4 linked regions of the Homo sapiens genome follow. The protein of the gene in region 1 interacts with the protein of each later gene in a pairwise test. Each region holds a gene or a part of one and is shown on either strand. Other genes may lie near its edges.

Region 1 (7,188 bases):
ACTAGGGAGGCTGAGGCAGGAGAATCGCTTGAACCTGGGAGGCGGAGGTTGCAGTGAGCCGAGATAATGCCATTGCACTCCAGCCTGGGCAACAAGAGTGAAACTGTCTCAAAAACAAAAAAAAATTAGCCAGGCATGGTGGCACACATCTATGTTCCTGGCTACTCAGGAGGCTGAGGCAGGAGGATCATTGAGCCCAGAAATTGGAGGCTGCAGTGAGCTATGATCATGCCACTGCACTCCAGCTTAGGTGACAGAGCAAGACTATCTCAAGAAAAAAACAGATGTTTCATATTTCATAAAATAACTAGATTTCTAGTCATACACAGTTATCAGCATTATCTTAGAAATGTGCACTAATTATATGACTGTCTGATCTCTAGGTTTTAAGGGCAAGTCTAAACCCAATCTTCTAAAACAAGAAACCAGCAGCCTGGCCTGTTGTTTGAGGATCCTGTTTCGAATGTATGTTGATGAGAACCGCAGGGATTCCTGGGAAGAAATACAGCAGAGACTTTTAACGTAAGAAAATTAGTTTCTGATTAGATTTCTATCTGCTATATACAAAATGCATCACAGCAATACTGTGGATTGAAAAGAGTAAGAGAAAAATACATGCTGACACTCTGACAAATTTTTTTTTCTTTCTATTTGGTGACTCTCCCATTTCACTTTTCTTAATGCCCTGAAGAGGGCAGAGCCTCATCTGTTTCACTGTTAAGCCCTTGCTTGAGCCCAGGAGTGGAAGGGTGCTGTGAGCTATGCATAGAAACATGGACAGTGAAAAGTGCTCCGAGCGGTCAGCAGGCTGGATGGAAGTCCTGACTGTGGCTAGAGCCCTGTGGCCTTAGGCAGGTTACTATCCCTCTTGGGACCAGGTCCTCTTTAGAATTGTTGTCAGCAATAACATCCCATCATTCCTTCTTTCCAAGAAGAGTGTAATTGAAATCATATAACCAGGATGTGCCTACAAAATTATCTAGAAATCCACCAATGGGGAGAGAGTGGAATACTGATGAGGAAGCCCCAGCCAGAAAAGTAGGTCTTTGTCACTCAGCTTCCTGGGCATCAGCAAGATTCTGATGCCTGAGCTTTCTTTTCTTCCTCTAAGGTATAAAAACAGTAACACACAGTGCTGGCAAATGTGTGGTAAGAATGCACTCTCCTGCGTAGCTAGTTGGAGTGTATAATGGCATGATCTTTCTGGAAAGTAGGTGAGACTATATACCAGGAGCCCTAAAGTGTTCATTCTCTGTGACTCAGTAATTCCACTGTTATGGAATCTGCTTCAGAAAATATTTTAGAAATAGGAACCAGGAATACCACATGGAATATTCACTGCAGACTTATCAGGAGAAAAAATTTTAAGCAGCTCAACTGTGGAATGAATAACTAAGCTGTAATATGTCCTAAATTATGATATTATGAAACATAGTCATTAAAAGTGAATTTTTTTTTTTTTTGAGACGGAGTCTTGCTCTGTCGCCCAGGCTGGAGTGCAGTGGTGCAATCTCAGCTCACTGCAAGGTCCACTTCCTGGGTTCAACCAATTCTCCTGCCTCGGCCTCCTGAGTAGCCAGGATTACAGGCGCGTGCCACCATACCTGGCTGGTTTTTTGTATTTTTAGTGGAGATGGGGTTTCACCATGTTGGTCAGGCTAGTCTCAAACTCCTGACCTCAGGTGATCTGCCGACCTCCGCCTCCCAAAGTGCTGGGATTACAGGCATGAGCCACCGTGCCCAGCCTAAAAGTGAATTTTTTTTTTTTTTTTTTTTTTTGAGACAGAGTCTTGCTCTGTCACTCAGGCTGGAGTGCAGTGGCGTGATCTTGGCTCACTGCCACCTCTGCCTCCCGGGTTCAAGTGATTCTTCTGCATCAGCCTCCCGAGTAGCTGGGACTACAGGCGTGTGCCATCACACACCTGGCTAATTTTTGTGTTTTTAGTAGAGACAAAGTTTCACGATATTGGCCAGGATGGTCTTGAACTCCTGACCTCGTGATCCCCCCACCTCGGCCTCCCAAAGTGCAGGGATGGGCGTGAGCCACTGCGCCCGGCCTAAAAGTGAAATTTTTAAGAAATAATTTTACTTAATGTGGGAACTTTTTCATAATACAATAATTTTTACCCCAAAAAAAGCTGCAAAAGTGTTTTTACTTGGAATTTTCAGCAATTGGGGCATTTTATTTGTTTTTTTAGAGTCAGGGTCTTGCTATGTTGCCTAGGCTGGTCTCGAACTCCTGGGCTTACGAGCTCTTCCTGCCTCAGCCTCCTGAGTAGCTGGGACTACAGGCGAGCAATTTTTCTTTTGAAATCTTAGCAAAAAAAAAAAAAACTGGAAGGAAATATGCCAAAATATTGTCATGTATCCCTTAGAATGATGTAGCTATTTTTCTTTATAATTTTTTTCATAATTTTTTACATATATCAGTTACCTTACAATGAGAATAACAAGTCATAAAGTGAAAAAAGAATTAATTAATTAAAGGAGGCACCAATGGCTCATTTCAGCTTAAGCCCAAAAGACAAATACCTACAGTCTCATAAAGTTTCTCTAAAGGAGATATGTAGGGCCGGGCGCGGTGGGTCACATCTGTAATCCCAGCACTTTGGGAGGCCGAGCCAGGTGGATCACAAGGTCAGGAGTTTGAGACCAGCCTGGCCAACATGGCCCTGTCTCTACTAAAAATACAAAAATTAACCAGGCATGGTGGCAGGCGCCTGTAATCCCAGCTACTCGGGAGGCTGAGGCAGGAGAATCACTTGAACCCAGGAGGCAGAGGTTGCAGTGAGCCAAGATTGTGCTGTTGCACTCCAGCCTGGGCAACAAGAGCAAGACTCCGTCTCAAAATAAAAAAAAGAGATATGTAAATGTCAAGTTTTTGGCATGTTTTTTAAAAAAGCAATTAAATGTGATTGTGAGGAGAGAAAGGCAGTTATATAATTATGAGTAATAAGCTCTTGTGCTACAGACATTGATTGAGTTCAGCCCTAGCCATGTGCCAGGACTGAGCCAAGTTATGACTTAACATATTTACTTCATTTAATCCTCACAACAACCCCTTGAGTTTGGACTTTTTTTTTTTTTTTTTTTTTTTTTTTTTGAGATAGTCTCACTCTATCGCCCAGGCTGGAGTGCAGTGGTGCAATCTCAGTTTACTGCAACCTCCACCTCCTGAGTTCAAGTGATTCTTGTGCCTCAGCCACCTGAGTAGCTGGAATTACAGATACGCACCACCACACCCAGCTAATTTTTCTATTTTTAGTAGAAATGGGGGTTTGCTACATTGGCCGGGCTGTCTCGAACTCCTGGCTTCAAGTGATCTGCTTGCGTTGGCCTCCCAGAGTGCTGGGATTATAGGCATGAGTCACTGCACCTGGCCAGGCAATTTTTTATCTCCATTTTATAGCTGAAGAAACTAAGGCTCAGTGATTTGCCCAAGATAGCACAGCCAGAGTGGGTGCTCAATAGTTATTGCAGTGGCTGGGCTCAGAGGCTCAGGCTCACATCTATAATCCCAGCACTTTGGGAAGCCAAGGCAGACAGATTGCTGAGCCCAGGAGTTCAAGACCAGCCTGGGCAACGTGGTGAAACCCCATCTCTACTAAAAATCAAAAAAATTAGCCAGGCATGGTGGCGCAAGCATGTAGTGTTAGCTGCTTCAGAGGCAGAGGTGGGAGGATCAGCTTGAGCCCGAGGAGGTCAAGGCTACAGTGAACCTTGATCACACCACTGCACTCCAGCCTGGGCCGCAGAGCAAGACCCTGTCTCAAAAAAAAAAAAGTAATTAAAAAAAACATGTTAAAATAATTTTAAAAATAGCACAAGAATGAATAGTTCTCCCCTGAATGTGAGATGTTAATCAATTGTTTGATATGCCTCCCCCTCTCTAATTCTTCTAGTGTTTGCAGTGAAGCTCTTGCCTATTTCATCACTGTGAATTCTGAGAGCCATCGGGAGGCCTGGACAAGTCTCTTGTTGTTACTTCTAACTAAAACCCTCAAAATAAATGATGAAAAGGTATGAACAAGTAAACTCTGACCAATTTTCACTAGGACATAAAGTTTGGGTTGGCTTTTTACTCAAGAGTTTGCAGTAACTATTTTCTCAGTTCTCCCAAGGATGGTTACGTGACTAGCACCATTCTAGATGCATTGGAGAGAAGTTAATCCGTTATGGACAATGGGTGCCACAGGATATTAGGGCTTTTTGCCTGGAAGAACAGTAGTTGAGAACGGCTGAAGTGTAGACCTCATGTGTTGCTGTTAGGAATGGTATGGTGAGTTTCAGTGCAGGAAGAGAGGGTTAAGATTGTGAAGCACCAGTTTTGACCTAGGAACCTGCTTTACAAAATAAAAGAGCTGTTGACTTTTGGCAGCAAGACTATCCAAATTTAATTAAAGTTAAATATAACTGAAAGAAGCTTTAATTTGCAAGGTTTCTTCAACTTCTTTTTTTTTTTTTGAGACAGAGTCTTGGTCTGTCACACAGGCTGGAATGCAGTGACGTAATCTAGCTCACTGCAATTTCTGCCTCCCAGGCTCAAGCGATCCTCCCACCTCAGCCTCCTGAGTAGCTGGGACCACAGACACGCGCCACTATGCCCAGCTAAGTTTTTGTATTTTTGGTAGAGACAGGGTTTCACCGTGTTGCCTAGGCTGGTCTCGATCTCCTGAGCTCAAGCGATCCACCTGCCTCGGCCTCCCCAAGTGCTGGGATTATAGGCGTGAATCACTGCGCTCGGCCCCAACTTTCTAATAGCAAGAAAAGCACCAATATTGTAATAAGTTCCAGGGTGAGATTAACACTTCTGAAAAACTGGTGCCCAAAAAAAAAAAAAATTGTCTAATTTTATCTGTTTCTCTCCCACCTCAAGTTCAAAGCACATGCTTCAATGTACTACCCCTACTTGTGTGAAATTATGCAGTTTGACCTGATCCCTGAGCTCCGAGCAGTTCTGCGGAAGTTCTTCCTACGGATAGGTGTTGTGTATAAGATATGGATACCAGAAGAGCCATCACAGGTACCAGCAGCACTGTCACCAGTGTGGTAGCCCTGGCTGCCCAGGCCAGTGCTGCAGCTCTGCAGAATGTTCAGCATGCCATTTCTGACTGGCACATCTCGTGAAGTTTCATAGAAACAAGGAGTTGGCATCTTGGATCTCAGAATGGCCTGGAAACGGATGGCCTCTACGCTGTTCCATCACAGTCTCCAACTAAGGCTTATGGTATTTCATTAAACTGTTGCATACCCAGTTAGCACAGTAGGTGGGGAGTCTGCTTCATTTCTATCATTCCATTTTTCTGATTAAACTGTCAAATCTGTCATTGCATATGCCATCGTTTTCTAGCAAAATCCCATGATTGGCTATAAACGTTTTGTAAGAAGTCACTCTCCTTGAAAATACTGAACATAGCTGTATAGGTTTGTGATTATTAGAGAATATGTTAATAAAACTTCTTGTAACGGCTAACTGCCACCTAAAATATGCTGGGTTTTCTGTTGTTTGAGTGTGTTAGAGAAATTTGAATGTTTTTGTCAGTTACGAGTCAGCCGTAATTAGATTAGTTTAAGGACAGGTCAGGATTAGAGAAGAGTTGTTTTTGTGTTTTGTTAATGTCTGAGTGATTTTTAAAGTATTTTACAAAAAGATATTGAAAATTTGGTTGAAGGCAGAGTTTAGTAATTAAGTTAGAATTAAGAGTTTTGCGAGGTTAAAAAAATGTGCCTCGTGGATCTCCCTGTTTTAGTAACATGGAGAGAAAAAGTCTACACGAAAAAGTGAACAATTTAATGAAGATGATTAGCCTTCCTTGAAATAAGTATTTGTGGATGGGTGTTAAATTAAAATTTCCAGAATACACTGTCCATCTCACACACTCTGAAATCTAATATATGAAGTAGTAATGAAAATGAAGTAGTAATTTAACCAGAGTTCATTTATCCTTGAATAAACCTTTTTATTTTCACCTCAGAAAAGTGAGTGTACTGGCAGTTAGTGTCACTGCTTTGCACAGTCCCCATTAAAGGACCCTCCAGAGAGGGACAGTAACTGTGCATGAGAAGCCGCTCCCATAAGCCTCCTCAGCCAGATGTCATGGGTGGAACTGGAGCTGTGTCGGGGCCAGCACAGCTGAACTGTGACAATGGCAGGAGGTGGCATGTGCCCAGCACTTCCATTAATCTGAGCCTAGGAGTTGAATTCTTTGGCAAGGTTGGATTCTGAGGTCCTTATTATGTTAATGATGGTGCAATACTCTCACCTGCAGTAGAACTGAGTTCTGCTGCAGCTTGTGTAAAAGTGGGCAGTACACAAGTACGTCCCAAAGCCTGTGAGCAGTATACGTGGATGCTCACCCATGAGAAGGAGCACACACGCCTCATTCTCTGCCCTCACCCACTGCTCACCTAGAGCATCGCTGAGCGTTAGACAAAGTGTTACACAGAATGATTAAAACTTTCAGACTTCTACCTATGCTCTTTAGTCCTGTAAATTGGGTTGTATTGATGTCAACTCTGGTGCCTTAGAAGTTAGTAGTTTGGGAACCTATCTGTAAAATCAGATGTTTTTTCTTTGTAGAGAAGGATTTCTGGTGCTTTTGCTTACTAAGAGACCGATATTCTTAAGTTGTTTTCTTGTTTTAACAGCCTTGAGAAATGTTTGGTTTTGGCCAGCAGAATTCTTGTCTACTTTTTTCTTTCCCAAAAAGTGTTTTTTAATTTCTCTACCAAAGAAAAAATGAGCAGGTTTAGGTTTTTACATGACTTATATACATTAGATAAAAGGAGCTGTATAATTTAGCAGGAAGGGACTATGGGAGAATACTTTACTGTGAGTGGAAAATGTTAGCACATTTGACTGGTTTGCCCTGGAATCCACTGCACCTTTACACTGCACCATGAAACCTACACTCCCTGGTATCATAGCGCGTCATCACCTCAACAAGTCAGTCGTCTCCATTGATATTTGTACAAAAGGTATACATGGGGAACACGTGTTCATTCATTAAGTCCATCTTGCGTGCAGCTATATCCCTGATTGGTTATTTTTCCTTTCCTTCTGAGGTTCTCATGTCATTTTCTTCATCGGATGTGACTAAAATTTTTCTGGTGTCTTCTGCCCTCTCTTTAATTTTGCCTCTTGAGGGGTAGCAGATGTGTCAGTGCATTTTATTACTTGCTGAAACA
Region 2 (7,188 bases), on another chromosome or scaffold:
ATCTGCCGCTCCTTGTCCCGGAGCTGGGAAGCCAGGAGAGATAGCAGAGAAAGCTCACTTCAGAGCAGAGCAGCCTTCCCCCACTCTTCCCCAAACACCCTTGGTCTGGGCCTGTCTCCTGTGTCCTGATGGCCACATGCATCCTTTGCTCTCTGATCCCAGAGGGATGCTTGTCCACTTTTTCCCAGAGACACGACAAAAAGTATCCCGTCTGCCAGACACCCCTTCCCAGCCCAGGTCTTGAGCCCACCTTGACTCCCGGCTGGAACACAGGTAGATTCTTCTCTGCGATGTAATCAGTCACCTTTAACCAGCTGCCAGACAGAAAGAGAAGCATGAGGGCAGAGGGTGGCCTGCCTCAGTGGCCTGGCTTGTTTCGTTTGCTAAATCTCTGGATCTACTTGGTGGGTGGTGGTAGGAAGGGATGTGGGTCACAACTAAGCAAACAACAGGTTTTCTTCCTGGGAAGAGAAAATCTTTAAACTGGTCACTTTTTGAGATAACATTAGGAAACACTTGAGTGTTCAATAAATTGGACAAATACTGTCAACTATACTTCACATCAATATCGTGGCAAACTAAGATGGAGAAACAGATGAGAAAGAAAGGAGTGGAGGGCAGATAAATGAGAAGGAAGAGGTAGACACATTCAAAGGGAAGAAACAAAGCCAGGAAGAAAGAGGACCAGAGAAGCAGCGGGATCCTCACAGAGCAAGGCTCAGCCACGTTCAAGTGCTCTCGCGACCTTGCTCTTCTCCTAGGTAAACATTACCCACGTCTCTGAGAGCCAGCTCTTCAATCATTCTTAGCCTTGACACTTGGCAGACTCCCCTCTAAAGTGGCCATAGTGGGCCCCTAGGAGCAGGTAGTGGTAGAGGAGGGGGCTTCTCTCTCCACCCCGTGAGTTTGATTAGAAACCAAGTGGAGGATTAGGGTCCAGAGGACAGGAGTTCCCCGTGACCGACTCTGTGTCCTGAGGTGCTGAGAAGGAAGAGTGCGTGGTGGCACAGGGGCCCATGCAGGAGCAGGGCGGGCCCAGCCTCTCACCTGCGCTGGTAGGTCTGGATCTGCTGCTCAATGTGCTCCCGGTAGGAGCGCTCAGCAGTCTTCTGTGTCACTGCCACCAGCTGGATCAGTTCAGACCTGGGTCGGGGTAGGGGACAGAGGAGAGGAGGACAGGATTGGCTCCTCAGGCCCAAAGGCTGCGGCAATGCCGGGAGGGCCTCCCATTGCACCCCAAACTCCACAAGCTCTATGGCATCCCACCTTCCGGGTCCTGGGGTGGAGGAGACTGAAGCACCCCCTCCCCTCTCGTCCACAAGAGAAGGAGCCCAGGGGGGCAGGGGCTGGCACAGCTGCACAGCCGAGGGGAAGGTGAGAGCCGCAGACTCACTCCCGCAGGCCACTTACTTCTCCAGGGACTTGAGGATGTAATTGTAGTTGTTGTGCAGGAAGATGGCGCTCAGAGCTGGGTCCTCGTACACCTTGGACTTGCTCAGCAAGTTCAACTGCAGGTTGCCCAGCACTTTACCTGCACAGGGAAAAATGGGGCCACACCCACCATGGCAGTCTGACCCAAACGACCCCACCCCAGGACCCGCGAACGCGCTCCTATCCATCGCTCCTCGTCCTGCCTCAGGAGGCCTTAGCCCAACTCCCCTCAGCCTCTGAACTAGAGGTCAGGTTGTGGTTCCAAAGATCAGATGGCACTTAGGAGAGGGCCCTGGGAATAGCCAGAGAGCACAGACAGAAGGAAGGGAAAGGCAGGGCATGCAGGCAGCAGGGCTGCTGGTCTGCCCGGGAGAACACTCACAGATATAGGTGCTTAGCAGCCGCTTGCTGAACTCAGAGCTGTAGCTGGTGGCCGAAGAGCTGGTCTCTGTGAGAGGAGAAGTCCTGTTATTGCAGTGGCAGCAGCCAAGACCCTCAACGGCCCTTCCCCCAGGCCATGCAGCAGTCTGAGGGGACACTGAGACAGGCCCTGGGCTTCCTTGGGCAGAGCTGGCTGCCTGCTAAGCCACAGGGTGGCCCCTGCCGCAGGAAGCACCAGCCCTGGAGTTTTTGGAACCCAGAGCTGCCCTCTATGATGGGATGGAGCTGGCCCATGTCAGCAGAAAAGCTGGCAGGAAAAGAGTGAGATGCCAGCGCCCTGTCCCCTCCTGCCCCCACCCACCCTGGGTGGTTTCTACAAGGCCCCCTTTTTCCTTTTGTCAACAGCAGAGTCTTAGAATGGGCTCCCCACAGCCTCTCCACCTTCTCCCCTACATTCGAACATCCCCTCTACCAGACCCTACTGAACAGACGAAGCTGCGGCCTGCACAGTGGGGAAGGCCGAGTGGGGACAGCAAGGCAGGGAGGCCGGGCGAGCCTAGGGGGTGTATCCAGGGCTCTAGCCTGGGCAGGTGCTGCGGATAAGCTCAGAGACAGAGTGGCCTTGAAGGGAGCAGAGAGAGTTGAGAGCACCCCGAGAAAACTCATGTCCCCTCTGACTCAGGCTCCCCAGTAGGTACTGAGAGTCAGTCCCCAGGGAACCTCACCCACCAAGCTTCAGAGGGACAGGAGGGGGCTGCAGAACCGCACTGCTTACCTCGGGGGTCTAAAGGAATATTGTATGTGTCCCCAAGAACTACGGAGTGAAAGGCAGTGCACACAGAGGGGACAGAGGGAGAGACAAAGGAGGGAGAAAGATGCAAAGTGCAAAAAACAGGTTAGAAACGGCATGTCAACCCGAATTAAGCAGACCTCTCCCCACGACAGCCAAAACACAGATAGCAAGACACAGCAGGCGGGACCCTCTGAGGACCAGGGAACACCCTGGAAAGTAGAGAGCTGAGAACTGCAGGCTGGAGGCTGCCCACAGGCTCCTTGCCCCCAAAATGGGACGGGAGGAGAGGGCCCAGGGACCTCAGTGCTTGGAATGACCCAGAAAGGTGCTCTTGCTTACAGGCCAACCCCCTGAGCTCCAGTCCCAGGGCAGGGCCAGCAGGAAGACGCCCAGCGGGCCCTGAGACACTTGCTACCCTCTGAAGGCCAGCTGAGCGAGCCTGATTAGGAGAGCAGGCAGACACGAGAGAAGGATTTGGGAGGGGGGCAGGGGCAGAAAGGACACCTTCCAACCAACCAGCACCGCTCCCAGAGTGAGGACACTGCTTCCAGGGCGAGGACGGTCAAAGGGGCTGAGGGAGGGGCCAGAGGTCCAGTGTCTGGTCTTGAAAGGTGCAGGCAAACCTTGCTCTCCTGATGCTCAGCCCCAGGGACCCTCTGCTGAGCACACCTCAACCCCTCCACAGACTGGAGATACCTCCTCACTGCTACCTGCCCTCTAACCCCATGTCTCCAGGCAAGGAGGCGAGTGGGGCAGGGGGCCCAACTGGGAGGTACCAGTACCTTGGGAGGCCAGCATGGCGCCTGCCGTCTCCTGGAAGTCCAAAAGCTGCTGCAGGAAGAGGATGGCCTGGGTGGGAAGAAAACGGTGCAGAAGGGCAAGTGGCAGGCCCGGCCGACGGCCTCCCACAGCGACCCCTCTGAGTGCCCAGGGCCAGCCCAGGGCTGGGATCCGCCCAGTGAAGAGCGCGGCTGGAAACTTCATTTTCACTCTAGCCTGCCAGGAAAGGCCCTGTCTGCTAGAGACACTAAACATGTCACTGTCCATCCTGCCACCCAGGACTGCTCACAAAGGTGCGAGCGGCTCTGGGCCAGGCTGAGTCCCTTCCACCAGTACTCTGCCTGGCCCTGGGCCTGGGCCTGGGCCCTCCTTCCTCCCCTCTCCCTGGTGTCCTCAGGCAGCACCCACATTGCTGGTGAGCTCGTGTACGGTGCCGTCCTTCGGCATGTTGTACTCCTTGTCCGGGTCATTCTGTGGAAAAACAGCCTCTGGTTCCCTGAAGCAGCCCCCAGCCCACCCCATGCCCCAGTGCACCTGCTCATGGTGCCGCCTCCTGGCAGACGGGTGCTAGGACACCTCTCAGGCACAAAGGCTGAGCCAGGCTGGACCAAGGGGGAGAGGCCCTTCCCACTTCAGAGGGCTTGGAGGCCCCAGGAAGGAAAGGAAGGCACATGGGTGCTGACAGGCCAGTGGCGCAGCTGGCTGCCCCGGGACAACGCACCCTCTTGGAGGCCTGCTCTGAGAGTCCCCCAGGGCCAGGTCACTGTGGTGCTGGGCCGGGAGGGAGGGAGAAAGGGGAGGACAGCAGGGACCTTGATGTTGTCTGCGAAGTCCTCCAGCGCTTTGGCACCGATGGTCTCCATGGATGTGATGAGGCCAGGCAGCTTGTTCTTTGTGCTGGCAGCCGTGCCCTGAGGAAGCACAGGGGAGCCCCCAGCTCACCTCCAGTCGCTCTGTGAGCATCTCACTCACCCAGGGCCCTTCCTAAGCTGCTTCCATGCACCTTCAGAGCAGAAGTGTGGGACAGAGAATGGGGTTCTCCCAGGGAGGGATGGGGCGGCCACACCCGGCAGCACGATGCCTCCTGGCTGTGTTTTTGAGGGCCCCTCGCCCACATACCTGGAGCACCTGGTCAAACTCAGGCTTGGTCTGCTTGAGGTGTCGCAGGATGGGGAAGACGGTGAGCACCGTGGAGAAGTCGTGTCGCACAATGGCCTTCCGGGCAGCAGACACGATGTTCTCCCCTTCAAGCATCAGCCCATCCAGGGCATCCTGAGGGGGCAGGGAGACAGTTCAGGGAAGGGTGGGGCGGTGGGAGCTAGTTCTGGGCTAGTGGGGGATCCTTGCAGTATGTAGGGGGGCCAGTGTGCAGGAAGAGGGGTGACGGGGAGGTGGTGAGCGTCCACCCAGGACCGGTCCCCAGGGCACGAGGTGGTGGTGGTGGGTGGAGTTGAGGGCTGCAAGAGTCTGTTGTGACAGCTCTTGCTGGGGCTGGCTGCAGAGCCCCCGGGGCGGGGCGGGACCTGTATCAGGGAGTCGAAGGTCTTCTTCTGGTGGTGCTCGGGGATGATGTCGGCCAGCAGCTGGTACTCGCTCTGCGCCAGCTTGACGAAGGCACTGACGCAGTGGATGTAGGCATCGGTCTCCACGTCCAGCATGTCATCTCTCCCTGGGGGATGGCACAACTCTTGAGCTGCTGGTCTGGGGCCAGCCACACTCCTGGCTGGGGGCGGCGTGGGTCCCCCAGCTCCTGGCCTGTACCCCACACTGGCAGAGGATGGGGAAGAGGCTGACTGTTCTGGCAGAAAGCTGCAAGGGAGCCAGCAGGCCCCGCCAGGTTCGAGGGGAATAAAAGGAGCTGAGCCCAGCCTTTGTTCTGGCTTCATTCTCGGCTCTGCGCAGACAGTGGGATCAGACACCAGAGGCAGGAGAGTGACGGATGGAAAGATAAGGAGGGAAGATTCCTGAATCAGCGTCCTGGATAAGGTGGTTTGACCCCAGGACTGAGCATTCTGAGTTGTACCTGAAAGAGGGCAGCCCAGGGTGGGCAGGTGGCTGTGCCACCTCAAGGAGGCTGGCACTGGGGTCATCCATGTGGGCAAATGCGGGGCCTGTGAAGGAAGTGACCAGCCCAGTCAGGGCTTCTGGAACATCTAAGAGGGTGGTTGGCTGCAGCTTCTGAGGCTGGCTGGCATGGGGTCAAAATCTAAGAGGCTGGTAAGTCCCAGAGAGGAGGGGTTGCCAGCTGCCCCAGGAGGAGGCCAGACCCTATTACTGGAGGCCACGGCGGGGGCGCCTGCAGGCAAAACCGGCGGCAGAACTGCCTGGTCCTATGTGCCAAGGGATGGGCTCCGAGGGGATCAGAGCTCTGAATTGTTGCAGGAGGCGGACGTCAGGGCTCCCTGCCCTCAAGGGAGCCACCTTCCCTCTCTGCCTGCTTTCCGAGGAGCAGCGGCTTCTCCCCTTGGCCCAGGCCTGACAGACAGGCACGCACTCCCATCTGGAGAGAGGCAAGGAGACCTAGGCCCAAAAGAGAGAGAGTGGAGAGAGAGGCGCATAGGCCTGGCCCATCCTCAGAGCAGAGTGGGCCCAGCTGGGCCAGGCAGGAGCAGGCCATCCGGGGACCGCTGCGAAGGCAGTGTCAGCGGCTGCCCTCGGGCTGGGCTGCGGTACTCACCGGCCAGCGGCCCGTGCTTGTCGTTCAAGGCCTCGGACAGGTGCTTAACTCGGAAATCATGCTCGTGACCTGGCGAGATGTCGGCCGCACAAACACAAGCAGCGTTTATCCAGGGGCCAGGCAGGCCGCCCCTTGGGGTACAGGGAAGAAGCCCTTCATCTCCAGGAGGGGGACGTCAGATGGGGATGGGGAAGGGGGCATCGGAGAGGGCCCTGAGCCCCTCCTCTACCTCAAGCCACCTTGGGAACAGCCGTTTCAAGCCTGACTTCAGTGAGCACCCAGGACCGTCCTTAGCTGCTCATTTCCCCGAGCCTGGAGGCCCAGGGAAAGCGGAGAAGGACCAAGGAGGGGCTGAAGAGCTGATGCTTGGCCCCAGGGGGGTTCCCCACCTCGCTGTATTTGGGGAAAGCCCCAGTTTGCCTGTCCTCTGCTGCACACACTCCCCTTTCTAAAGATGGGAAGGCCGGGAGGCCTCGGCCAGCTGGGGCCTGCCACTGCTGGTCTGAGCGTGAAAGGGCTGCCCCAAGACAAATAACTTTTTCTGAGTTCACACAGGAGACAAGGACAGAGACAGGGAAGGGAGGAGGGAAGCCTCAGGGAGGGCAGAGCTGCCATCAGCCAGAGAGGACCAGGCCGAGGGCTGCGAAACTGTCCCTGTGCCCGCTGAAGCCCGAGTGGCATCGGGGACCTGCCGTTCCCACCCTGCTCCCCTCAGGGTTTCTCCCGAGGCCCTCCTGGGGGAGGCTCTGCCCTGCCAAGTGCGTGGACACACAGTGGAGGAGGAAGGGACAGGAGGGGAACACAGGGTGATTACCTTCCAGAGGAATGAGGTTAGAGCCCCCCTTTTTCCCATCTAGACCATGCTGGGAATACTGTTTCAGAAGGTTCTGAGCCTTACGGATCGTCCCTGTCACCAGAGCCACACAGAGAGGAGATAAGAAGACCTAGGAAATGAGTGAGAGAAAACAGCAGCGGCCCTCCACCTGCCCCCCAGGCCCCGCACCCAGCTCCCCAACAGTGAGCAGGCCTTTCCCTGAGACCACCAGAGACGCTGGGGACAAGGATGAAGGAAAGGAGTCATTTCCTTCTCCAAATGGAGCCTTGATTCTACTACCGACCCTCCTTG
Region 3 (7,188 bases), on another chromosome or scaffold:
ATCAATAAAATTATGTGTGAGGCTGTCTTCTTCCTCAGTGTCCATAGTAAATACTGTTTTCATGTCTTTTGTGTTTTCTACACAAAGGACATGCAGGTCCTGCCATCTTTATCACAGATGATTATGCCTTTGCCCCAGAGTCATGCTAGCTGGCTCTTTTTTTTTCCTCCCTATTTGAGTCTTTATTTTCCTCTATCAGTGAGAAGAGTAGAGTAATTGAGTTAAGGTCCCTTTCAGCTCTAACATCCTATGATTCAGTTCAGATCATTTGATAAGAGTAGATATCAGATTTTATGGGATGATATGGAAAGAACAGAAAATTCCTTTAGTAATGCCTCCCTAATTCTATTTATTCAGTGCTTTTTTTTTTTGGTCTTTGGTCAGTAAACTGATAAATGAATAATTGCTTTTTACAAATGAGTTTGATTTTCTTGCTCCTATATTGAGTAAGGCTGGCTCTAATAGATCTTATTTTATTTCAGTTCCTGCTACCACATGAGCCCAAGTCGTCACTCTCCCATGCCTAGGTTATTCAACAGTTTTTGAGTTGAGTTGGTTTTCTTGCTTCAAGGATGCCCCCCTGCCCCCACAAATTTTAGATTTCAATGTGTTATCTCCTTGCCCAAGAATCTCCAGTACTTTCAGTGCCTATAACATAGTATCTAAATTCCACAGCTTAACTTTAAAGAACCTCCCCATAGTACATGTCAAAGCAGGATTCAAGGCTGCATGTCTTTACACTCCCTAATTTGAACTTAGGCTGGTCTTTTCACGGTGTCTTGAGTGATTATATTAGTTCACAACTTCAAACTTAGGCTGTTCTTCTTACCCTCCTGCCCCCAGCTCAGTATCACCATGAAGTTTGCTTTGCTTACCTATGTTGTACTATTTCAAGTCCTGCCTTCTCCAAAAGTTTCTCAAAAATGACTTTTGCCAACATATACCTCCCCTTCAGATTATTAAAGAAAATATTTGTAATCTACCCATAACTCTTACCGTTTCACTTATTTTGGCACCTAGTTATTGACTTGTTTTATGGTTTCTTAATTTGCTTTAATTTTCCAACAAGTAATAGATTGTAAGCTCTTAGAGGGCAGGGGCTATGTTCTGTACTTTTTAAGAAGCCTATAGGTGCTGAGCACAGTTCTTGGCACATCATGGGTGCTCAGTAAAATACTTGTTGAATGAATGAAACAAATACACAGGTATTCTTTCCTGCAGTATAAGCCCATAAGTCAGTCAGTGTTAAATGTGACTGTTTCCAGTGGTTACTTGTGACTTTACGTTGTTACTACTTATTCTTGTTTTTAGTGTCTGCCTCTTTACTCTTACTTTTTCATTTGACAAAAATGGAAGATAAATAAGATGAAATAAATAATTTTTGTTTGGAGAATAAAACTAAAATATTTCCATTTGCAGTCGACCCTCTGTATCCAGAGATTCAAGCAACTGCGATGGAAAATAGTCTTTAAAAAAGCAACAACAAAAAAATACAAATTTTTAAAAATAAAGTATAATAACTTTTATAGCATTTACATTGTGTAAGGTATTATAAGTAATGTAGAGGTAATGTAGAGGAAAAAATAACAAAGTAGGATATAGGCCTTGCAGAGAAATTTAGTGTATTGGTACCTTAGACTTACCTGACTGATTTGACAAATTTATTTGTTGCTGTTCCTTCTGAATTACCCTTCCTTTTGAGTAGCTACAGGATCCATGCCATTGAATTGGGCATTAGCCAGTGACAAAAAAGAGATAGAATTTTTGTTTTTTAGGTCATCTGCTCATAATTCTTGAATCTGGGTAACTTCTGGGTACATGTGGATGACTCAAGCAAGTACTTTTAAAAAATATCTTAACTCAGACCTAATGTCTGTAAATTCTTGACTCAATGTGGTTAGATTTTTGACAAATGTTAATAGTGAGACTACAAATACGTTTATTTTCATTATCTTTAGATAGCAGTTCATTTAAATATGAGCTCATCTATTCACAAACTTAGTGTGGAAAGATCTAAGGAGGACCACATCAGTTGAGAAGAATGACCGGCATCCCCTGCTCCCCTTTTGAAATTCACAAGGCATAATATTTACTAAAGTGATGAGAAGTCTTGCAGAAGCCTTTTACAATTTTTACTTAGTATTTCTGTCTTATTTGACCATCTCCCCCATAAATCTCCCACATAAAGCATTTGTTTTGCTTTGTGTAGCACATTGTATGAAATTAGCATTTTGTGAGAAATGCTGAATTAGGGCCCTTTATTCTTTTAGTTTGCTCTTTAGGAGAAAAAGGCAACATCAAAATAAGTTAGTGTTAACACACATATGCATAAACGAAACAGCTTGTGTAGTGCAATGAATGTATTCATTAGATAGTGGATCAAAAGAGGAAACAAGTCAATAGATTAACCTTTGATTTTTAAATTAGGCTTGTTGAATATCATGATAAGACTAATAGTAGTATTAATAGATAGTAAAGATTTGAGGCTAGGCACGGTGGCTCATGCCTGTAATCTCAGCACTTTGGGAGCCCGAGGTGGATGGATCACTTCAGGTCAGAAGTTTGAGACCAGCCTAACCAACATGGTGAAACCCCATCTCTACTAAAAATACAAAAATTAGCGGGACATGGTGGCGCACACCTGTCATCTCAGCTACTTGGGAGGCTGAGGCAGGAGAATTGCTTGAACCTGGGAGGTGGAGGTCTCAGTGAGCTGAGATCGCGCTATTGCACTCCAGCCTAGGCAACAATAGCAAAACTGTCTCAAAAAAAAAAAAAAAGATTTGGTACATATGCTACACCATAGCAGTGTACTAGGGATTTTGGGGTTTGTTTGTTTGTTTGTTTTGAGACAGAGTGTCTGTCACCCAGGCTGGAGTGCAATGGTGCAATCTCCACTTACTGCAACCTCATCCTCCCAGGTTCTCCAAGTAGCTGGAATCACAGGTGCGTGCCACATGCCTAGGTAATTTTTGTATTTTTAGTAGAGTCAGGGTATCGCCATGTTGGCCAGGCTGGTCTCGAACTCCAAGGCGCAAGTGATTCTCCTGCCTTGGCCTCCTAAAGTGCTGGGATCACAGGCATGAGCCGCCTTGCCCAACCTGTTTTTAACCTAGAGAAATAGGTCCATGTTGTGAAGGTTTATAAGTAGGAATTAATAGATGACATTCCAAGTAGAAATTATCAGTCTCATTCTTATTTTTTTCCTTACCTTTATTTTTCTTTTATTCAGTACACATTTAAGTATCTTGGGTGTGGTACCTAGTGTACAGGTGATGTATGCCCTGCTCTCAAGGAGGTCATTCCTGAGATGCCATTTTGAACTCATTTTTGTCTTCTAACTGCTGATTTGGTTGTTATGGTATTTCCGTACATTTGGAAATCTAGTGGCTATGAATATTTTATACAGGTTGAGTATCTGTAATCTGGAAACCAGAAATGCTCCAAAATCTAAAACTTTGAGTGCCAACATGACACTCGAAATAAATGCTCATTGGAATGTTTCAGATTTTTGAATTAGGGATGCTCAACCAGTAGGTAAAAAGGCAAATATCTGCAAATCTGAAAAAATCCCAGTCTGGTGTCAAGCATTCTGTATAAAGGCCTCTCAACCTGTATTTGCCTTCTTTCGCTGTCTGGTCAAGTACTTGTACATTATGTATCACTTATTTTAAGCAAGTTAGTTGTACTTAGCAGTTATTAGAGATGTGATTGTTGGAAGTGAATGTTCAGTGTTGCAAAGTGAAAATAGCACTCAGGCAAAAGTTTTCTCAGCAAGGCAGTTTACTTCTGTAGAAGGGTGTGTCTTGCAGATGGAGCAATCGTGAGATGGACAAGGGAGGGGAAGAGGTTCTTATTCTTAACACAGCTGGTCCCCACTGTTGTGTCTTTCCCCTACTGGCTAGGGTTGGACCGCACAATCTAAAGTGACCCAGTTGACTAATGTTTGAAATTGAACCCAGCTGTCTAGGCTGGAAGGGAAAGGCTATCCATTATGACACAATGCATGTCTAGGAGAAGGAAGAGTTTATCTGAATAAGGTGGAGGAGAGCTGAGGAAGGTTTTGGTGAGAGCTGTTTTTATAAGTCTTTGCACTAAACTATGAGTACAGGGTATGATACAGCATCCTGTAAGAATGAGCACACCTATAATGGCTGTAAGAGAAGGATTGAGGCTATGATTCCTTTTCATTTACTGAACTACCTCTCTAGCCATGTTGAGAAAGGGTTATCGACTCCAGAATTTTTAGTTAGTTCATTGGATAAAGCGGTAAGTCTTTGTAAGACGCTTATTATGTTCCCAGTGGGGTCAGTGTTGTTTGGGATAAAGGTACAACAGTGAATTTTAATCATAACACAAACATCCCCTATTTTGGCTAATATATCTAGGGCCATTCTGTTTTCTCAGGCCATCTGGCTAGTGGGCCCCAATTGTTCTGTTACCCTTTGACAGCATCCGTGGTGTAATTATAAACCACTGCTGATTATAATAAATGTAATTTATCCAATCTACGTTTTTATTAGTTGTCACTCACAAAAATATTGACTCAAATCCTGCAGCTATTTGATCTCGAGTTTTAAATTTAAGAGCATTCACATCTTGATATCCTGTCTCAGTTGCCAAAGTTTGTTTTAGGTCTTTAACTTCTACAATAGCTACCTTGGTCTTTTCATTAGATGGAGGAGGAGCAATAGTTTTGTTGTGAGAGGTTTTGGAAGAAGGCTTAGGGGAAAGTGTAGGCAGTAGGGGATCAATGCAGCATATTTCAAAGGATCCAATAGGTTCTGTTCCTGAAACCTCAGCCCCCATGCCATAAAACTGGCTTAAAGAAGGGAACCGGCTTATAGAAGGGGAAGAACTTGGAGGGTTTGAGATAATAACCTGTATTGGACAGTACTGGTTTAGCTCACAGCTAGGGGAAGCTGTTTCTTTAGTAAAGTGAATGTATGGCTTTAGGAAATTACAGCTACTGGTTGGGGCAGTTTATCCGTGCTCTTTAGTGGTCTACAGAACGTTTACAACTACTGGTTGGGGCAGTCCATCTGTGCTCTTTATTGGTCTACAGAACATTGGACCAACTGCAGCATAAAAGCTCTGTCTTGGCGGGGTGTGGGGGGCAATACTCCCAGTTGACATTGGGGTCTTTATTGAAACCTTTCCAGACTAAATGATCCCGATTCACTAATATCCAGTCTGAGCAGAGCCAGGAAGGACAGAGGTACTTTTTTGGAGTGGAGAGCTGCTTCGACGTGTCAAGTCTCCACAGGGTATAACAAGGCAAGCATCAAATATAATAGTTTGAGGCGAAATTGACTCGGTTACATTAATAATGAGGTGATCAGCAATAGAGAGGAAAGAAGAAGGAGTAATAGAATAGATGAAAGAGAGTTAAATTTTCCTTAGCTTTAGTTTGGTAGGGTTTTCCCCTGGGACTATGGCCCATGACTCTGGAGGGGGCGGCACTTTTTTGACTCGGGTGTGATGGGTCCATCCTTTTTTTGCTGTCTGGACTGTGGTTTCAGTAGTTAGGTGCACTAGGTATGGTCCTTTCCAGGCCAGTTTGAGCTTTTCGTCCTAGTTTTTGATGAGGACGTGATCCCCAGGCTGATGTTGATGTACTGGGAACTCCAGGGACAGTGCCTGTGCTAGGAGACCTTTGGTTTTAAGAGGAGAGAAAGTAGAAGATATACCAAGTATATAATTTTTAAGGAATTGGTCTTTTGTTTCAAAGGTAGGAATGTCCGCAATGGAGTGTAAATAAGGCATTCCATAGAGCATCTCGTAAGGGGAAAGATGAATATCTTTCCAAGGGGCAGTTTGGATTCTTAACAGGGCAATAGGAAGACATTTGGTCCATGGTAATCAATTCTCCAGAACCAACTTGGTTAAGTGGTTCTTCAGAGTTTGATTCATTCTTTTTACCCTCCGTGATGAAGGTGGGTGTCAAGGAGTATGATATTCCCATCTAATGTCTAGTGTTTGGGATAGCTTTTTAATGATGTGTGTGGTAAAATGGGTTCCACTGTCTGAGTCAGCATTTTCTATTAACCCAAACCTAGGCACTATATTTTTAGTAAAGGCTTTAACTACATTATTGGCTGTTGCATTTGAAAAGGGATAGCTTCGACCCAGTGACTGAGGTGATCTGTCACTAGTATGTATTTTAGACGCCCTGTTGGAGGCATCTCTGTGTAATCAATCTGGATACTTTGGAATGGACTGAAGCCTGGACTCCTTCCCATAAGGGGTAATCTTTTTATAGTTTATTAGTTTTCTTACAAACTAAGCAACTGTCTGTAACCTGTTTGGCCAGGGTATAAATTTCTGTGCTCCCATAAACTGAGGACTCCGTCACACATGGCTTGGGGCCCCCAATGGATCTCTTGATGCAGTTAGGATAAGATTTCCCTCATAAGGGGTTTGGATAACATTTCTCTCTGGTTTGGCGACATCCGTTTTCCTTCTGAATTCTCTTTAGCACCTATTGTTATTAGGGTTTTTTTTTTTCATTAGAAGAAAAAGGGGGATCACGGTAAGAGGAGGAAGGTAAGGAGTTAAGTGAAAAATAGGTGTTTTAGAGGAAACGGCAGCCTGTTTGGCTATCTGATCTGTTAGGTTATTTCCTCGACTTTCGAAAGAAAGGCTTTTCTGGTGTCTGGGGATGTGGACAATAGGTATTTCTTCTGGCAACTGAAGGTTATTCAATACTTGAGTGGTTAGCTCCTTATGAGCAAGGTCTTGACCTTTACTATTAATGAGGCCTCGTTCAGTCTAAATTTTTCAAAATGTATGAGCCACTCAAAAGGTGTACTTAGAATCTGTACAGATGGGTCTTTTCTGGTTCTGCAAGTACTTTAAGGTTTGGCTGAGTGCGAACAGCTCGCAAGTTTGGGCAGACCAATCACTGGGCAATTTTTTTGGCTCTCTTTCTTTGAGAGTTTTTCTGTCAATTACTGAATACCCATTGTGTCTTTTTCCCTCAATCACCTGGGAGGAACCATTTATAATAAGTGTCCTCCTGTCCTGAAGGGAGTTTCTCCTAGGTCTGGTCAGACATTTGTGTGGTAATCGATTAAATCTAAACCTGTGTGTTTTTTCTTTAGATTTGGATCCCCTGTTAGGAAACCTGCTGGGTTAAGCAAATTATCAGTGGTTAATGTTAAATCAGCTTTTTTTTTTTTAACGGAA
Region 4 (7,188 bases), on another chromosome or scaffold:
TCTTATTACAATTTTCTGGCAGATGACAGTTGAGTGTCAACAGAGGGGCTCAGCAGGGTTGGTGCTGCCTCCCTTTCCAGACAGATGTCAAATCCCTCTCTTCTCAGCACATCAAGCCCTGCTCCCCCTTTGCCACAAGAGTCCTAGAAGCCAGACACTAAGGGCTCAGGGTCCGCAGTCCCCCAGGCAGAATTAGCCTCATCTCATCCCCACACCTTGGTGACATCATGTGCTGACTCAGTCTTCCCAGTGCCTCATGTTGGAACCTCTGTCAGGGATGGAGAGACATCTAAGGACCCCCAACCCCAGGCCACTGTGCAGAGGGGTAAGGAGGTGCAGAGAAGGGGTCTCAGGAAGCTTTAGAGCCAGCTTTAGGATCTGTCTTTCAGGGTGCTAGTATTTAAGAGTGTAAAAAAAAAATCCAAAACACTGGATATAAAGGCCTGGCACGGTGGCTCACGCCTATAATCCCAGCACTTTGGGAGGCTGAGGCAGGCGGATCGCTTGAGGCCAGGAGTTCGAGACCAGCCTGGCCAACATGGTGAAACCCTGTCTCTACTAAAAATACAAAAATTAGCCAGGTGTGGTGGTACGTGCCTGTAGTCCCAGCTACTCAGGAGGCTGAGGCAGGAGAACTGCTTGAACCTTGGAGGTGGAGGTTGTAGTGACCCGAGATTGCACCACTGCACTCCAGCCTGGGCAACAGAGTGAGACTCTGTCTCGGGGGGCGGGGGGGGGGGGAAGCAGCAACCAAAAAACCCACTGAATATAGTGAGTTCCAGAGTCTAGCAACATAACAGTGGAAAAGAAAAAGTAACTTTTGAAACAGTGTGACATTAATGTGACAATGTGACATATACTTTACAATTATGATCACTTAAGCAAATACCTCTGACCCCATAATTCTAATTAATGTATATCATTAAGTGAATCACACTGACTTTACTCTGAATTTCCTTGACAGCCATGCTAAAATACTTACCTTGGACATAAGCTAAGCTTTAAGTTTGTTGTTTATAACTTCAAAGAGAGACAAGGGACAGTGACTTAAGAATATTCTAAGCTATAAATTTACATGTGGACTTTGCTACACACCTGGGATGCAGCCAGATGAGTTTTGTTCCATTGCAGTACATCTGATGACCAGAATTCTATCAGAGAATGTTAATGAACGAAAAGCCTGAGCTTTAAGACTGAGATTGGTACCACGGGTAGTCATGGCCACCTGCTGGCAGCGTAGGGTACTGCAGCCCAGCTATGGTTCAGACTAAAAGCCGAGAAACGCCTGTGGTCCAGGGAAAGGTATGAAGATCATATAAACCGGCGGTGGACAGGAAATGCCACAGTCAAGAAGATGCCCCTGGGATGCTGAGCTCTTACAACTCGAAATCAACAGCTTTTACAAATAAAACCGCTGCAAAAGCAATAGCTCTTACAAATAAAACTGATAATTTGGACTTCTGGGCACCAAATGTTTTCATAACGAAAACATCAATTATGCATTATAATACCAAGTACACCTTACACTTACTGATTCTTCTCCTTAACTTTCAGTGTATTCCTTTAGGAGATTGTCGCACCTTGGTCAGAATACATCGACAGTTTTATAATAGAACAGAAAAGCTTCCATTTGCAGCAATATATTTTAGTTGGCTTGTTGAAACACATCTCTCTTCCTGAAAGCAAGCAATTCTTGAAGTGGATCAACCTTGTCATCATATCCCTTTTATTCTTCACCCTTTTATTCTTCACTGGTATGACAGTCCCTATACCATCTTAGCCACTGCTTTTTTGTTTCTACTTATTTTCCATCCCCCCTGCCTGCCCCCCATAGCAAAATGAAGGCATGCCGGGAAGCAGCAACTCAACATAAAAAGAGGACCCTCCAAGCGATCAGCTCACAAGACAGTTTTATTGAATTAGTTGCATGCAGGAGCAATTCTGTTCTTCCCATGAGCAGCAGAGTCGAGTGTTAGAGTGCAGGATCCAGAGCGGGGAGAGGCTGGGCGGAGTTGGGGGCCTGGAGGCTGGGGCCTGGTTACTTGGTGACGTGCAGAGCTCTCTCTGGGGGGCTGCAGCTCATCTTGGGGGGAGCTGGACTCAGATGCCCCCGTAGGTGCAAAAGCAACATCCACATCTCACTCCTCCCTGAAATAAAAAACAGTTATCCTCCAAAGTAAAACATCCTCCAAAGGAAAAATAAAATTCCCCCGTAACTTCCTGGCTTTGTTCTTGGGCTCTGGCTCCGGGCGGAGTCGTTCCCACCAGGCTATAGAGTCTGCACTTTGTTTGTTTTTTTGTGGCTCCCAGAGACTCACTGGGCCCTGCAGGCCCGCAGGAAAGGCCCGCCTGCTTACCGGTGCTTTTTGCGGTATTCCTGCAGCGCTTTCTCCGCCACGGTCTCCATAAATTTAGGGTTCTTCCTGGAGACTTCTACAGGGACCGTCACAGTGATGGGATCAGAGTCAAAGAGCTTCACGACCACCTCAGTGACACCGGAAGGAACGTCCGAGTCAGAAGTGTGGGAAGCCACCTAAATGGAACAAGAGAAAAGGGAAGAGCTGAAACACTGTGGTCAAAATGCATGCGCTCTGCAACAGAAGTCAGGCTTCTGATAAGGAAGTCCTCCTGCTTCTCCAAGGAAACCTAGAGAGCTGACCCCATGCTTCTTATACATCTAGACGTAAGTACAGCTCAGTGGACAGAACGGACCTGGTTCACAGACACTCATGTGTTGGGGCAAATGTCATCTGCAAATGACCAGCCCAGGGAGCACCCCAAAGAATAAAAGTGGTTTCCAAACATTTGCTTTAGAAGCAGCCCTTGGTCAGAGTAGGGTAGAAAAGGAATCCAGAGGGCCTGGAGGGAAGAAAGAAAAGAAAAAGAAGAGTTCCCAGTACTAGAAATAAGTTTTATTTGATTTTTTAACTTTATTTTATTATTTTATATATATATATTTTTTAAGAGACAGAGTCTCACTCTGTCACCCAGGCTGGAGTGCAGTGGCGTGATCACAGCTCACTGCAGCCTCCACTTCAGGGCTCAGGCAATCCTCCCACCTCAGCCTCCTGAATAGCTGGGACTACAAGTGTGTGCCACCACACCTGACTGATTTTTGTATTTTTTGTAGAGAGGGAATCTTGCTGTGTTGCCCAGGCTGGTCTCAAATTCCTGGCCTCAAGCAATCCTCTTGCCTCTGCCTCCCAAAGTGCTGGGATTACAGGCATGAGCCACCATGTCTGGCCTAGAGAGAAGTTTTTATCACTGGCAGAGAGTGATGTACTAATTCATAAGCCATTTTACATGCCAGAGGGCAGCCTTGTAGCTTTGAGAAAAGAACAGAGGCTTCTGGTTTATTCACAGATTTGTGCACCAAAACAAAAACAACAACAACAAAATACAGGCTTGGCAGCCAGGCAGTCAGGTTCAAATACCCGTCCAAGTCATCTGTCAGCTATCACACCTTGGCCAAGCTGTGGAACCTCTCTTACTTTGCTCCTTTGTAAAGCAGGGTTATATTTTCCCTGAGTGGGTGATGAGGCTTCAAGGCAACAGGGGCGCCTAAAGTTTTCTATTTTCTGCCGTGTGATAAATGCTCAGTCAAAAGCACACATGCCCCTGCTCCCGATCACAGCTCGGGCTCCCGAGCCACAGCATGTGGCCGGGACACAGCTCACCGTGGTGACCCGCAGATAGTACTGGTCTTCGCCTTGCGTGAGGTTTGCCAGCCGGGACACCCAGTTAAACTGCTCGTTCAGCTGCTCCAGCAAGGAGGAGGTGTTGAGCATCTTCCACTGGTAGGACTTTAGCAGCTCGTTGTATTTCCTGGTCAACCTCTCAGCGACCTGGAGGGATTCGTCGAGCTCCCGCCGCAGCTTAGCCTGGGAGGGGTTGTTGGTGGAACAGTCTGCCCAGAGATGGAAGAAACGCAAGTGAGAAGTGTGAAGGGAAGGCTACAAAGGGATAGAACCATGAATGAATGGAAGTTAGCACATGCAGCGGGAACAAAAGCAGTGCTTCCCTAAGGGAAGGGCCACAAACTGGAATTGTCCACGACAAAATAAAGGTTTTGCCTCAGAATGTGAATCTAGACACTGCTTCCGTCATCCAGAAAGTCTTTTGGGTTTTTTGTTTTTGTTTTTGTTTTTTTGAGACAGAGTTTTGCTCTGTTGCCTAGGCTGGAATACAGTGGTGAGATCTCGGCTCACTGCAGCCTTGACTTCCCAGGCTCAGGCTGTCCTCCAACCTCAGCCTCCTGAGTAGCTGGGACTATAGGCACATGCTACCATGCCCAGCTAATTTTTGTATTTTTTGTAGACACGGGGTTTCTCTGTGTTGTCCAGGCTGGTCTCGAACTCCTGGGCTCAACCCATCTGCCCAAAAAGTGCTGGGATTACTGGTGTGAGCCACCACGCCCAGCCTGAGAAGCCTTGCTCTGGAAAAATACGCCAACTGACCTAAACAGTGTGCTTCGTAACATCATTGATTTATCTTTGGGTGCCAGACCCTTATCTCTTTGGTGACAAACTGTGTTGACCACACTTCCAAAAGCACTGATCTCAAGTTCTCCATGTTCTCAGACCTGGAGTGGCTCTCGTTGCCCTAGTCCCTCCCGGGAATCATTTCCAGAGAGGAGGAATATTACTCACAGCTGCCATTCGTGTGGCACTGCCTTCGTCCCAGACACCGCAGAAAGTTCTCTCTGGATATCCTTTTTCTCTAAGAATTGGATCTGTTCTGACTTAAGGATTAGGACTTAAGTCCTAATTTTACCAATAATGAAATAATTTTTACCAATAATGAAACTGAGGCCCACAGAAGTATCAATAAATAGCTTACCTAAAGCCATAGAATAAATGATCTCTGGGCCCGGGATTGAACCAGGGTCTTCAGCTCCTAAGCTTGGGCTTTTCCTACCCTGGATCTGTGGTTCTGGACAATCCTCCAAGCTTGTCTTTTTTTTGAGACAGAATTTCGCTCTTGTTTCCCAGGCTGGAGTGCAATGGCGCGAGCTCAGCTCACTGCAACCTCCACCTCCCGGGTTCAAGCAATTCTCCTGCCTCAGCCTCCAGAGTAGTTGGGATTACAGGTGCCTGCCACCACCCCCGGGTGATTTTTTTGTATTTTTAGGAGAGACAGGGTTTCACCATGTTGGCTAGGCTGGTCTCAAACTCCTGACCTCAGGGGTCCACCCACCTCGGCCTCTCAAGGTGCTGGGATTACAGGTGTGAGCCAATGCACCCGGTCCAAACTTGTCTTTTGAGCATGTCTGTAGAGGTGGCAGTTCTGGTGCCAGGAGTTCATGCAGCTGATGCACTGGCACCTGGTGGCCAGGGGTCCTTGCCTGCCCACCTGCCCGCCCATGGCTGGTCAGTGAGTTCATCAAGAGAGCAGGGAAAAGAGAATTCATTCCTCTTGGCCCTGGGCTGCAGGTTGTCAGATTCATTAAGACCTGGAAACTGTCCACTAGCTCTTAAAACTACTGTTTTTCTCCCCCTAAGGTATTTCAAAAATATCCAGAGGCAGGTACATCAAACGTGAGTCAGGGGAAGGGAGATTTTGCATATGCTTTAGGATGATGACTGCAATCATTTATAGTAAACAAAATGTTAGGTGGGGAAAGAAACAGAATTACTAACAAGATGCCAGTTTGAAAATAAATATGTAATAAATAAACTTCATTATTTTACCAAAAAAAAATTTAAAAATAAGAAAAACTAGCTCACACCTGTAATCCCAGCACTTTGGGAGGCTGAGGCAGGCTGATCACTTGAGGTCAAGAGTTTGAGACCAGCCTGGCCAATATGGTGAAACCCTGTCTCTACTAAAAATATAAAAATTAGCCAGGCGTGGCGGTGCACGCCTGTAATCCCAGCTACTCAGGAGGCTGGGGCAGGAGAATCGCTTGAACCCAGGAAGCAGAGGTTGCAGTGAGCAAAGATTGCGCCACTACGCTCCAGCCTGGGTGATAGAGCGAGACCCTGTCTTAAAAAAATAATAATAAAATAAGAAAAATCCTTGAGAGCTGAGGCTTAGTCTAGAATAGAGGTTCTCTACTGGGGTGACGCTGTCACCCAGGGAGATTTAGCAAGTTCTGAAGCTGGTTGTCACAACAAAGGGAAGGGAGCTGCTGACCTCTAGTGGGCAGAGGCCAGGAATGCTGCCAAACACCCTGAACTGCTCAGGACAGCCCCCAACGACAAAGAATGACCTGGTCCAAAATGTCAGCACTGCTCACACCTGTAATCCCAGCACTCTGGGAGGCTGAGGTAGGAGGATCACTTGAGCCCAGGAGTTAGAGACCAGCTTGGGCAATGTAGCAAGACCCCATCTCTACTAAAAATAAAAAAATTAGCCAAGCATGGTGGAGCACACCTGTAGTCTGTTACTCAGGAGGCTGAGGCAGGAGGATGACTTCAGCCCAAGAGGTCTAGGCTGCAGTGAGCTGTAATGGTGCCACTGCACTCCAGGCTGGGTGATAGAGAGAGACCCTGTCTCAAAAAAAAAAAAAAAAATCAACAGCGCTGAAATTGAGAAATCCTCATCTAGAGTTCCCAGGCAGTACGTGCTTATATGGTTGCAAGCACCTTAAATAACAGTAGGCAGTCCTCTTCAGTGTAGACTATTTAGCTCAGCTTAGAGAATTATTCTTACCAATAATTCTCTAAGAATCTATCTCAGGTCAGGCACAGTGGCTCACACCTGTAATCCCAGAACTTTGGGAGGCCGAGGCGGGCAGATTACTTGAGGTCAGGAGTTCAAGACCAGCCTGGCCAACATAGTGAAATGCTGTCTCTACTAAAAATACAAAAATTAGCTGGGTGTGGTGGTGCACACCTGCACTCCCAGCTACTTGGGAGGCTGAGGCAGGAGAATCACTTGAACCCAGGAGGCGGAGGTCGCAGTGAGCCGAGATAGAGCCACTGTACGCCAGCTATAATCAATGACTGATAAGACTGGCGCTGGCTGCACTCTCAACTGTAATCAATGACTGTTAAGATTGGCGCCAGACCTGAGCCCAGCCTGGGCAACAGAGTAAAAATCAGCATAAGAGGTCCAATCTGGGCACAGGCATCTGGACATCTTTTCTCAGACCCTAACATGACTTTCTTGTGGTGAGGTACCATGTAATTGATGCCACTCTATGATATTTTTTATAGAAAAAGCCCCAAGGCCTGGTTGTGCACT

Evidence for each region.
Region 2: the proteins of ARFGEF2 (region 1) and EXOC7 interact in binary tests that used the Homo sapiens proteins (3 or more experiments, as listed by UniProt).
Region 3: the proteins of ARFGEF2 (region 1) and PRPF40A interact in a two-hybrid assay, tested with the Homo sapiens proteins (one large-scale study listed by BioGRID and IntAct).
Region 4: the proteins of ARFGEF2 (region 1) and CLU interact in a two-hybrid assay, tested with the Homo sapiens proteins (one large-scale study listed by IntAct).

Annotation. Positions count from the first base shown.
Region 1 is NC_000020.11:49,028,147-49,035,334, forward strand, and holds part of ARFGEF2 (brefeldin A-inhibited guanine nucleotide-exchange protein 2), read left to right. Parts: intron 1-383; coding exon 384-522; intron 523-3,902; coding exon 3,903-4,020; intron 4,021-4,876; coding exon 4,877-5,053; 3' UTR 5,054-7,188. UniProt on the Homo sapiens protein: Promotes guanine-nucleotide exchange on ARF1 and ARF3 and to a lower extent on ARF5 and ARF6. Promotes the activation of ARF1/ARF5/ARF6 through replacement of GDP with GTP. Involved in the regulation of Golgi vesicular transport.
Region 2 is NC_000017.11:76,084,267-76,091,454, forward strand, and holds part of EXOC7 (exocyst complex component 7), read right to left. Parts: intron 6,970-7,188; coding exon 6,877-6,969; intron 6,216-6,876; coding exon of another isoform or gene 6,063-6,215; intron 5,906-6,062; coding exon of another isoform or gene 5,778-5,905; exon of another isoform or gene 5,476-5,777; coding exon of another isoform or gene 5,409-5,475; intron 5,055-5,408; coding exon 4,909-5,054; intron 4,658-4,908; coding exon 4,505-4,657; intron 4,297-4,504; coding exon 4,198-4,296; intron 3,857-4,197; coding exon 3,794-3,856; intron 3,455-3,793; coding exon 3,388-3,454; intron 2,627-3,387; coding exon of another isoform or gene 2,588-2,626; intron 1,880-2,587; coding exon 1,814-1,879; intron 1,532-1,813; coding exon 1,411-1,531; intron 1,144-1,410; coding exon 1,048-1,143; intron 315-1,047; coding exon 251-314; intron 24-250; coding exon 1-23. UniProt on the Homo sapiens protein: Component of the exocyst complex involved in the docking of exocytic vesicles with fusion sites on the plasma membrane.
Region 3 is NC_000002.12:152,705,662-152,712,849, reverse strand, and holds part of PRPF40A (pre-mRNA-processing factor 40 homolog A), read left to right. Parts: intron 1-482; exon of another isoform or gene 483-546; intron 547-7,188.
Region 4 is NC_000008.11:27,596,103-27,603,290, forward strand, and holds the end of CLU (clusterin isoform 1 preproprotein), read right to left. Parts: intron 3,908-7,188; coding exon 3,678-3,907; intron 2,534-3,677; coding exon 2,358-2,533; intron 2,149-2,357; coding exon 2,139-2,148; 3' UTR 815-2,138; downstream 1-814.